Regions from separate parts of the Homo sapiens genome. Here region 1 is linked to region 2. The links come from fine-mapping of genetic effects on gene expression. A gene starts in region 2. The other region holds a variant in brackets. All regions are shown on one strand. Distances are between the middles of the regions.

The links. PIP is the estimated chance that this variant, and not a neighbour inherited with it, causes the effect.
Region 1: its variant is fine-mapped to the expression of FBXL16 in blood mononuclear cells (TOPMed, PIP above 0.99).

What each region holds. Positions count from the first base shown.
Region 1 is chr16:681,167-686,520 of GRCh38, forward strand. STUB1 (STIP1 homology and U-box containing protein 1) reads left to right here. Exons shown (of 7, transcript NM_005861.4): 2 at 1-184; 3 at 272-437; 4 at 627-714; 5 at 854-910; 6 at 999-1,115; 7 at 1,198-1,635. The coding sequence ends at 1,323. JMJD8 (jumonji domain containing 8) reads right to left here and starts at 3,168. Exons shown (of 9, transcript NM_001005920.4): 1 at 3,068-3,168; 2 at 2,900-2,989; 3 at 2,695-2,743; 4 at 2,519-2,615; 5 at 2,364-2,432; 6 at 2,156-2,275; 7 at 2,001-2,068; 8 at 1,787-1,921; 9 at 504-1,708. The coding sequence starts at 3,153. The coding sequence ends at 1,628. It overlaps WDR24 (WD repeat domain 24), which reads right to left. Exons shown (of 9, transcript NM_032259.4): 4 at 4,902-5,020; 5 at 4,703-4,824; 6 at 4,513-4,617; 7 at 4,091-4,431; 8 at 3,826-4,010; 9 at 3,456-3,736. The coding sequence ends at 3,568. RefSeq lists enhancers at 3-52, 23-610, 611-1,198, 3,548-3,597 and a silencer at 2,838-3,147. The variant C/G (reference allele first, on the strand shown) is at 2,349.
Region 2 is chr16:703,413-708,766 of GRCh38, forward strand. FBXL16 (F-box and leucine rich repeat protein 16) reads right to left here and starts at 2,389. Exons shown (of 6, transcript NM_153350.4): 1 at 2,100-2,389. RefSeq lists enhancers at 2,978-3,594, 3,595-4,210 and a silencer at 3,473-3,689.

The sequences.
Region 1 (5,354 bases), 22 kb before region 2:
GTGGCCGTGTATTACACCAACCGGGCCTTGTGCTACCTGAAGATGCAGCAGCACGAGCAGGCCCTGGCCGACTGCCGGCGCGCCCTGGAGCTGGACGGGCAGTCTGTGAAGGCGCACTTCTTCCTGGGGCAGTGCCAGCTGGAGATGGAGAGCTATGATGAGGCCATCGCCAATCTGCAGCGAGGTTGGCTGACAAGCTGCCCGGTTGTGGGGCCTCTGGGGCCAGGCGGGTGGACTGGCCAGAGAGTGACGTGAAGCCCCCGTTCCCCAGCTTACAGCCTGGCCAAGGAGCAGCGGCTGAACTTCGGGGACGACATCCCCAGCGCTCTTCGAATCGCGAAGAAGAAGCGCTGGAACAGCATTGAGGAGCGGCGCATCCACCAGGAGAGCGAGCTGCACTCCTACCTCTCCAGGCTCATTGCCGCGGAGCGTGAGAGGTGGGACCCTCACCCCAGGCCGCCCTGTCTTGGGATAATTCTGAATCACCGACTCCCGACACAAGCGTTTATCGAAGGCTTTACTGGCAAGCAGGAAATGTGGGGAAGTGTGGATGTTAGCTCTGAGATTGGGGTGTGGTCAGACATCTGGCCAGGTCCATCTCTGACCGGCTCCTGGTCAACCCCCAGGGAGCTGGAAGAGTGCCAGCGAAACCACGAGGGTGATGAGGACGACAGCCACGTCCGGGCCCAGCAGGCCTGCATTGAGGCCAAGCACGTGAGGGTGCCCCCCACCCACATGTGGGTCTGTGTGTGTGCACGTGGCGTGGGAGCATCCCCGCCTTGTGTTGGGTCTGTGCCCCATGGAGGAGGGAGGTGGGGTGTCTCCCCCAAGCACAGCACTCAACTCTTCACAGGACAAGTACATGGCGGACATGGACGAGCTTTTTTCTCAGGTGGATGAGAAGAGGAAGGTGAGTGTGTGTCGCTTGCTGCCGATGGCTGGCAGGTGCTCGTGCAGTGCCCCTTTTCAGCCTCTGACCGTGTGCCCCTGTGCCACAGAAGCGAGACATCCCCGACTACCTGTGTGGCAAGATCAGCTTTGAGCTGATGCGGGAGCCGTGCATCACGCCCAGTGGCATCACCTACGACCGCAAGGACATCGAGGAGCACCTGCAGGTGAGGCCTGCGGCTGGGGGAGCAGGGCCAGTGGCATGGTCCTGGGCCCCATGACTGCCCTCTGCCCTTCTTGTCACTGCAGCGTGTGGGTCATTTTGACCCCGTGACCCGGAGCCCCCTGACCCAGGAACAGCTCATCCCCAACTTGGCTATGAAGGAGGTTATTGACGCATTCATCTCTGAGAATGGCTGGGTGGAGGACTACTGAGGTTCCCTGCCCTACCTGGCGTCCTGGTCCAGGGGAGCCCTGGGCAGAAGCCCCCGGCCCCTATACATAGTTTATGTTCCTGGCCACCCCGACCGCTTCCCCCAAGTTCTGCTGTTGGACTCTGGACTGTTTCCCCTCTCAGCATCGCTTTTGCTGGGCCGTGATCGTCCCCCTTTGTGGGCTGGAAAAGCAGGTGAGGGTGGGCTGGGCTGAGGCCATTGCCGCCACTATCTGTGTAATAAAATCCGTGAGCACGAGGTGGGACGTGCTGGTGTGTGACCGGCAGTCCTGCCAGCTGTTTTGGCTAGCCGAGGAAGGTGGAGATGAAGACGCTGGTGTCAAGGTTGAGCGTAGCATGCCACCAGCGGTCGGGGAAGTACAGCACCTGGTGGAGGAAGGGGGTGCAGCAGAGATTAGCTGCGGGCCTCTAGCCTGGCCTGGCCCTCTCCTGCCAGCCACTGACCTCACCAGCCCGGATGGTACACTCCAGGGGCCGTGCAGACGGTGGCAGGGCTGGGTATGTGTCCCGGAGCCAGGCCAGCGTGGTCTTGTTGGGGTGGAACTCTGGCGTCTTCTCAGGTGGGTAAAGGAACCAGCGCTGGGGGCATGAGCAGCAGTGTCACCCTTGCCCGTTTTGGTCAGCGAGTCCCAAGCCTCAACCCCCACCCCGTGCTGACCTTACGACCGTAGATCACTTCTGAGTACCCGGGTCCATGCCAGTGGAAGGGCACCCCCGAGCCAGCTCCTGTGGGGTTATGAGCACCTGGTGACCAACCCATTTTGTACTCACCGACAGAAGCCTCAGTCCTTCCCAGTCCCAAGAAGCACCCACCTGCGATTCCAAAGCTGTAAGCTGGAGCGGTTCCCAGCAGGCCAAATGGGGGTGGGGAGTAGTGCCGAAAGAGAGAGGCCCACTCGGTGAAGTTGTTGTCCCCGAAGAAGTACAGGGTGTCTGCCAACAGAGACGGCGGGGACAGGGATCCTGGCACCTGGAGACTCCAAGCGTCCCCACCCCCTACCGCCGC[C/G]TAGGGCTGCCTCACCATTGCCCAGGGAGGTGGGGTCCTGGGGGTGCAGCAGCTGCTCCACATACTCCTGGAAGGGCAAGTCCACTGCAGGAAAGAGACGGGTCAGGACCGTCTGGTCCAGCCGCCCCGGTGTTGGCAAATGGGCGGGCCCCAGGGGTGAGGCCGCGTACCTTTGTGGTAGGAGTAGGTGTTGGCGGTGCTCAGCCGGACCACTCTGTCCCCAAACGAAGCCAGCAACCTGTCGCGGGAGCACAGGGCCCGGAACCTCTGCGGGGGCGGGGAGGGGACTTAGTGGCCGGGCCCAGCACGGGCGAGAGTGGCCGGGGACGGACGGGCACGCGCTCACCGAGTTGTCCGTGAGTCCCTGCAGGATGACGGGCCTGACGAAGGCGTACCTGGAAAGAAGGGCAGAGTCGCGGCCAGGCCGGACCGCCAGCCTCGCCGCCCCAGCCCCACGCGTGCGCGCGAGGTCAGGGGAAGGCGGCCTTGGGCGGTCGGGGCAGACGGGCCGGTGAACAGGACGCGACCTCCGCGATCAGGGGCGCACGTACTGCTGCACGAACTCCGCGTAGGTGAGGTCGGCCCGACGCTCCACCGTGCAGCGCTCCTCCTCCGCCACGGCCCCCGGCCCGCCCGGGCGCCTGCGGGCACAGCTGGGTCAGCCCGCGCCCCGCCCGCCGCACGTGACCCCACCGCCCGGCCCCTCCCGGGCCGCTCACCACCCGCCGTCGCCCTCCGCCCCGGAGCCGGGTAGAGCCACAGCCGCCAGCGCCCAGAGCGCGAGCAACCGCGACGCCGGCGCCATGAGCCTGCCGCCCTCAGGCAGCCGCGCTGCACGCCGGGAACCTTGGGCCCATCCGCCAGCCATTGGCCGGCAGCTTCGTCGTCGTGGCAACGGCCGGGAACCGGGACGGACCCCGGAAGTGACCTCCTTTGGCCCGCCCCGGAAGAGGCCTCTACGGGAGGCACTGGGAAGGCCGCCCCGAGAGCGACTATGGGCGCCGCCGGTTACCATGGCGACAACCCCGCCGAAAGCCCCCGCCCGCCAGCTGCCCCGCGGGCCTACGGCGAGCCCGCCGCGCTATGGGGTGACACGCAGTGCCGACAGCGGCTCTACTTCCTTTATTGAGGTCTCAAGTTCCAGCCTCCGCCCGTCTCGGGCACAAGACCAGGCGGGGTTCTGCACGCGGCCGCCCGGGCAAGCCCAGCAGATGCCCCGTCAGGAGTACTCGCAGAGGTGGCCGCAGCCTGCGGGACAGTGGGAGCTGCCTTCCAGCCACTTCATGATGTGCTGCAGGTGGCCGCCGTGGCTGCAGCCCTGGCACCACACGAAGAGACCCTTGACTACGTGGTGGCAGACGGCACACATGCTGGCGCAGCGGTGGCACCTGGGGGCGGGCGGGAGGGAGGGTGCCTCAGCGGGGGCTGCTGCGCTGCCTGCAGGCCCCTGCCCCACCTCCCGACCCCACTGCCCCACCTGTCGCAGACCCAGCCCCGGCTGCTCATGGGCCGCTTGCAGTGGCTGCAGTTGACGTGCAGGGTGGTGGAGGCCTGGTTGAGGCAGCTGACGGCGCGGCTGGTGCTCAGCTTGACCACCTCGTTGGACACGTTCCAGAGGCGGAAGCGCTGCAGCAGGTCGATGTAGGAAGTGTACCAGTGCTCCTGGGGGAGGGAGCGCCCGGCAGTCAGGATCTGGGTGCCAGGGGCGGCGCTGCAGGGGGGAGGCCCCGCCCACCACACACCTGGGTCTGCTCGTCGATGTCCTTGCGCACCCGTTCACCCAGGACGATGAGCACAGACACAGCCATCTGCACGTCGCCCTGCTCAGCGTAGAAGTGCAGCATGTCGCGCACCAGCACGCCGAAGAAGTCGGGCGGCAGGCGGCTGTCGTAGAGCGCGTGTGAGACAGACAGGAGCGAGAAGGAGGAGTCCACGGGGGCCAGGGAGGCCACATCCGCCTCGCTGCCGCTCACGTGCGGGGAGTCGGCCTTGTCCTGCAGGTGCTCGGGCCCGGGAGGCGTGTCCACGATCTCGTGGCGCAGCGGAAAGGCCTCCTGCGGCAGCACGCACTCAGGGTCCTCGGCTGGAAGGCAGGGACCAGCGGAGGCTCTGAGTCTGTCCTCCATCCGCCTCTGAACCCCACCCTGCCCGGACCCCCACTCACGGTGCGCGTGTTCCGGATCCAGCAGGTACAGCTCGTCCTCCTCACCTTCCACGTCACCCAGCAGGTAGTCGGCAGGTACGTCGCTGCCCTCGGTTTCCTCGTTATCTGCCCGACAATGGGGCGGGCATTCAGGGTCGTCTGGGACACCCCCACCCCTCTCCCATCAGCACCCCTACCCACCCCAGCCTACCCTCATTGGTGATGAGTGTGGCCGAGGAGTCGAGCAGAACTGTGTCGCTCCGTGCATCTCCTTTGCTGCGGTCCAGCCGCGTCTCACTGCCCAACCCTGGGGCCATATCCTTCAGGTTGAAACTGGGGGCAGGAAGGGCCCATGGGTGGGTGGGCTCGAGCAGCCCCAGCCCCTGGGGAGAGCTGCCCCCGGCATCTACCTGTTCATGAGCGGGAGGCCACAGGAGCCACCCTTGCCCACACTGTGGTTGAGGTTTGCAGTGGGCACTAGGCCAGGGCTGCAGTAGATGATCCGCAGCATGGTCCACGTTTGCGCCACCTAGGGGCGGGCACTGGTCACTTGTGGGCGTCCTGGACACCCAGCACCCCATGCAGGTCCCTCTCTGCCTGGACAGTCACAAGCCCTCAGCATTCAGCTGCCCTCAGTACCCAATGTCCAGGCCCACCCCAGGTAGGAAAGCTGAGGCTCATGGGAAAGACAAAAACCCCGGTCCCCGCCCTACAGCAGCACAGAGGAAAACAGAATTGGGCAGTGGGGACTTGCGGGGCAGCTAGAGATGGGCATGGGAACGGCAGCTCACGGCTCCACCGCTGCTGGTGCCTGGAGAGCTCCAGAAGCAAGGGGGGAAGAACAGAGAGCTTGAGCCACACGA
Region 2 (5,354 bases):
CCCTCATAGAACCTCAGGGACCATTGAGCCCTGCCTGCAGAGGGCCTTAGAGCTGGGCAGGGCCCTGGTGGCCAGAGAAATGCACATCGGGCTCCATCTGCAGTGGCAGCCCCAGAGCCTGGCTGACAGCTGGGGTGGCTGGGGATTGGGGACAGGGTGCAGACTGACACATTCCGTGGCAGCCCCGTGACGCAGGCACACCCGCGTCCCTGCCACTTGGCACGTGGCACAGCGGCAGAGCTCCTCTCCCGCCCCCAGTTTGAGATGCTTCTGGGGGTGCACCAGGGGCTCTGAGGAGGGGCACCATGGCGCAGCAGGCACGTGGCCTCAAGAGAAACCCGTGTTGCTGCCCCAGCAGACTGAGGGCCCATGGTCAAGCCCAGGGCAGCTCAGCCTTGAAAGCTGGACACCCTGGGGAGTGGGTGCTGGGATCCAGGCCTCATCTCAGCCCCTGCTCGGAAGAGCATGAGCACCCTCAGAGGCGAGGCCTGGGCCCCTAGTGCCTACTGCTCCAGGCAGCTGCCACTAACCATCACCCCTCTTTCCTGCCCAGTGAAGGAATGAGGCCTGAACCCACACATTGCAGCCAGTTTGGCCGTTGACTCCTCCTGCACCACTGGTGGGGAAGGCTCAGTCACCTGCTCACCCACAGAGCTCCCTTCACTGCCAATCCAGTCATGGGAGGCACAGCAGTGGGTGCCCACATGCAAGGAGATGGGGTCTTCGGGTGGCTGAACAGTGCCACCTGGGTGGGAGATCCCTAACTCTCAGCAACACAAGGCTTCCTGGGTCCATGTCCAGCTGGTTCAAGGGCCCCGTGCCTCCCACACAGGAAGCTGTTTGTGTCCTTCTCATCAGTGGGAGGTAGGACTCGTCCAGCCGCCCCGGAAGTGGGTGTGAGCTGGAGGCAGTGAGTCTGTCGATGGAGGGGCTGAACTCAAGGGTCTGGCCCCAGATGAGGGGCAGTTGGGGTGGCAGGGGGCAGGGAGTGGGGCAAGTGAGTCCTAGGGTTCCCCCACACAGCGATGTTTGCAGCTGGGCCTTGAATTTCCCTCCCCTCCAGGCGGCTCCAGGTCCAGCCCTGTGTCCACCTCTGGCCAGACCAGCCAGGTTCCACTAGGCCTCTGCCCTGGTCCGGGAGACAGAAAACCCTTCAGTCTCCTGGCCTGACCCAGGCCTATCTGCTCCAAGGCTGCTGTCCAGCACCCCACAGAGGGGGTGGGCTGGGAGACGGCCCTGTGTCCAGGGAGGCCTGAGCTGCCCCTGGCCATTGGGCCCTCGGATGCACGGGTGTGGGGGAAGGGCCTGAAGGAAGAGGCAGGTGAGGTGGCCTCCGCCATCTGCTCCTCCTGCGGAGGGCAGGCTGCCCGAACAGAGCCTGGAGCCTGGGAAGGGCCTGGAGTGGCCGCTGGGCCGTCAGTTCCTGAAGCTGCCACCGCAGCCCTCTCTCCTGAGGTGATGGGTGGGGAACGCTCTCCACCCACCTAATCCCCAGGAGGACACCGGACCCCTCCCGAGCAGGTCTGAAGGTGCCGTTTCCCTTCTGAGGCCCTCCAACCTTGGCCAAGGCCCGGTCCCGCCTCCAGAACCAGGAAGGTGCCAGCCTCCCCCCACCCTCCTCCTCCCGCGGGCAGTAGCTCAGCGCAGGCCCCGGGTCCAGAAGCCGCCCGCCCGGGGAGGGCCGCCCCTCAGGCCGCACATCCACGCGACCCCCATGCAGTTTAACGGTCTCTGGCCTGTCACTTCGGTCCGGGGGCGCCCTCTGAGCCGACCAGGCGCCCGGGGTGGAGGCCGGGGGCCTACAATTCCTCCTTTCGGCGTCCCAGGAGGCACGGACCCCCAGCCCCGGCCGAGTGGCCAGTGGGGAGCGGCCCTCTTCCGGGCCAGGGGCCGGGGCGCGGGGCTGCGGGAAGGCCAGGCAGGGACCGAGGCCCAGCGGCCGCGGGGGAGGTGGGGAAGGGGCTGCCGTTACGTAAGCCCTTCCCGGGCGGCGGCGGCGCGGCCCCCACCCCCACCCCGCCCCCTCCTCATTGTGGCCGCCGCGGAGGTGCGGCCTGGCCCCCTCCCGGCCCCGCAGCCCGGCCGCACGCGCACCTTACCTCGGCCCGGGCTCCTGGCTCATGCCACGCTGTCCGCCGGGCGACCTCCCGTCATGGGGAGCCCGGCATGGGCGTCGGCGCGCGGGGGCCGCCGGGGTGCTGGACTGGCCGGCAGGGCCCGGCCGCGCCCTGCGCCCCGCGTCCCGTCCTGGCCGGGCCCCCTCGGCAGCGCACGGAAAGGAGCTCCCCGGTGGGAGAGGATCGGCCGCCCCAAGCCTCCCACCGGGGAGGCTGAGGCTGTGCCCAGATAAATAAGGCCGCTTTGCAGGGAACCAGGCGGGCGCCTCCTCCTCCCCTCGCCCTCCCCGCGCTCCTCCGTGGCCGCCGCCGGCGCCGCGCGCGCCCCCCGCCCGGCACCAAACGCCGCGCCCTCGCGCGCTCCCGGCGTGGCGAGCCAATCCGGGTTCGCGAGCCCGGGCGGGGGCGCCGAGAATGCCGAGCCCCGCCCCCGCCCCGCCCCGGCCCCCGCGCGCGGCGCGCTCCCGGCACGGCGTCCACGAGCACGCGCCAGGCCCGGCACGCGCCCCCGCCCCGCTCGCCGCGGGCACCCGCACAATAACAAACCCCGGCGCGCGGCGGGCGGGGAGGGCGCGGGAGGCAGAAGGGAGGGCGAGGGGAGGCGGGAGAGCAGGCGCCGGCGGGTGGCCCAGGGGTCCGGGGTCCTATGGGGACCGGGGCGGCACCGCGCGTCCCGGCCCTTGGCCACCACTTGGGGAGGCGAGGAAGGCGAGACCCGGCCCAGAGGAGACAGGGTGGTCAGACCCCCGTCTCTGGACCCTCCCGCCCAGCCCACGGCAAGGACCCTTCACAGCCCTCACACCCCCCGCGCACCTGCTGCGTGCCCGGCCGGAAGCCCCTCATTGGAGACCCTGGCACACCCGCAGAGCGCGAAAACAAGTGACTGCACGGATCAGTTCAGACAGTGACAGTGAAAGCACCCGAGGGCTTGCGGTGGTGACTTCTGGCGGGGGCTTCCTGAGGGTGCCCCACTGGAGCTGAGACCCCCCCACGGCGCGAGGGAGGGATGGCTCGGGAATGGGGGTGCAAAGATCCGAGGAGCCTGGCAAGTTCCCTCGGGAATAAACTGGAGGCTGGAGGCGGCGGCGGCTGCTGCAGCCCGGGGCAGGGGTGGGGCGTGCTAGGTTAGGTGGAGGACTCGGTGGGGACCGCTGGAGACCCCAGACGCCCCAGCAGGCTCAGGGCAGGAGAATGGAGGCCAATGGCGCCCTATCCTGGGGTCTCCTGGGAGCAGGGCCGGGGGAGGGAGCAGGTGTGGGGAGAGCAGAGGGGTTCTTTGCACCGGGAAAGAGCTACAGGGCTGAATGGGGCTCCTGAGAGTATCTCAATAGGAGTGAAACCAGCTGCTGTTCCCAGCGTCCTGATGGGAAGCCTGGCCGAAGGGGCCGGTGTGAGGCCTGGGGTCAGCGGGAAGGAGGGTCAGACTGACGGCACCCTGGCTGGGTCCCGGGGTGGGGTGGTTCTGTGCTTGCTGTGGGGGCGCCACTGGGTCTACCTGGGGTGAGCGCAGCAGCTCTTCTGCGTAAGTCTTGCCCGGTACCTGGATACTGACCAAAGAAGGTGCCCGGAGTGGGGCAGACAGGACGAGCCCCGTGAAGACAGTTGGGGCAACAGGGGAGCGGCGGTCCAACCTATCTGGGTGTCTCCGGTGCATGGTCTGGCAGGCTGGCCCTCTGGCAGCAGCTTCCACCCCAGGCGTGGACTGCTCCCGGTAGGAGGGTTTCACCTCGTGCCTGGGGCTCTCACCACAGCAGGTGCCAGGGCCTCAGGCAGAGAACAAGCTGTGCTTGTGTTGAGTCCCAGCTGGGGCTGGAGCCGGACACACCCCAAGCGCACAGGGCAGGCTGGACACACCCCAAGTGCATAGGGTGGGCTGGACACACCCCAAGTGCATAGGGTGAGCGTGGGAGTCAGGCATTTGGGTCATGCAACCCTGGCGAGGCCCAAGAAGCTAGCCCTGCCTGTGGGGAATCTGAGCAGGGAAGAGTGTGTGGAAGATCATCACAGAAAGGCCAACCGTGCTCCTCCAAAGCGGTGACCCACCTGCCCTCCACCTCTGTGACCAGCTGTGACCCACCTACCCCCCACCTCTGTCACCAGCTGTGACCCACCTACCCTCCACCTCTGTCACCAGCTGTGACCCACCTACCCTCCACCTCTGTCACCAGCTGTGACCCACCTACCCTCCACCTCTGTCACCAGCTGTGACCCACCTACCCTCCACCTCTGTCACCAGCTGTGACCCACCTACCCTCCACCTCTGTCACCAGCTGTGACCCACCTACCCTCCACCTCTGTGACCCCACCTGTGCCGGGCAACTTTGTCTGTCTCCACCATGGCTGGTGGCAGCTACTTCCCCATTGGTCTCTCCACCCCTCTCCCATCTCCTTTTCTCCCCAGGGTGCAGCGGGGCCATTTTGCCGTGCAGACATGGTCCTGTTCTTCCCAGGGCCCTGTTCATTCTTTGCTGAAGACTGCACAGCCCTGAGTGCCTGGCACGGCTGGCCCACAGCCTCGCTCTATACCTGGCCCCTTGAGGATGAAGCTTCAGCCACACTGGCCTTCTTCTGGGGCCAGGAGAGTGCCCCATCCCTAACCTGGTGTGCCCCTCCCTTCACCTGGAGCACCCTTCACCTGGGGCACCCCTCACCTGGAGCACCCCTCCCTTCACCTGGAGCTCCCCTGCAGCACCCCTCCCCTGGAGCACCCCTTCCTGGAGCATTTCCTCATGTGGAGCACCCCTCCCTTAGAGCACCTCTCGCCTGGAGCACTCCTCTCCTGGCCCCTTGCCTGGAGCACTCCCTTGCCACCTGTACCTGGGTGACTACTTGCCTTTCAGACCTTGGCTAATGTATTCTCCCCTAGGTGCCCTCCCTCAGGAGGACAGGGCCACAGACCCGTGTCCTCACCTCCCCAGCACCAAGGACCTTCTTTTCTCAGCCTGTGTCTGCCTGGTGTCTGATGGTGCATTTGATGAGCTATTGGCTGACTGTGCCTGCTGAGGGCCAGGGTGCGGTCTTCTTCCCCACCACCCTGTCCCTGGGCACTGAGCCTCCATCTCAGTACGTCACAGGTGCATGGCAAATTTGGCGAATGAGGGAGACAGCGATGCGTCAGCAGCATGAAAGGTGACTGGCACCAGCAGTTTGGATCGCCTCCTGTGGCGGGAGGCCCTTGTAGAGGATACCTTTGGAGAACAGCTCACACCCCAGAGGGAAGTGGCTTGGACAAAGGGG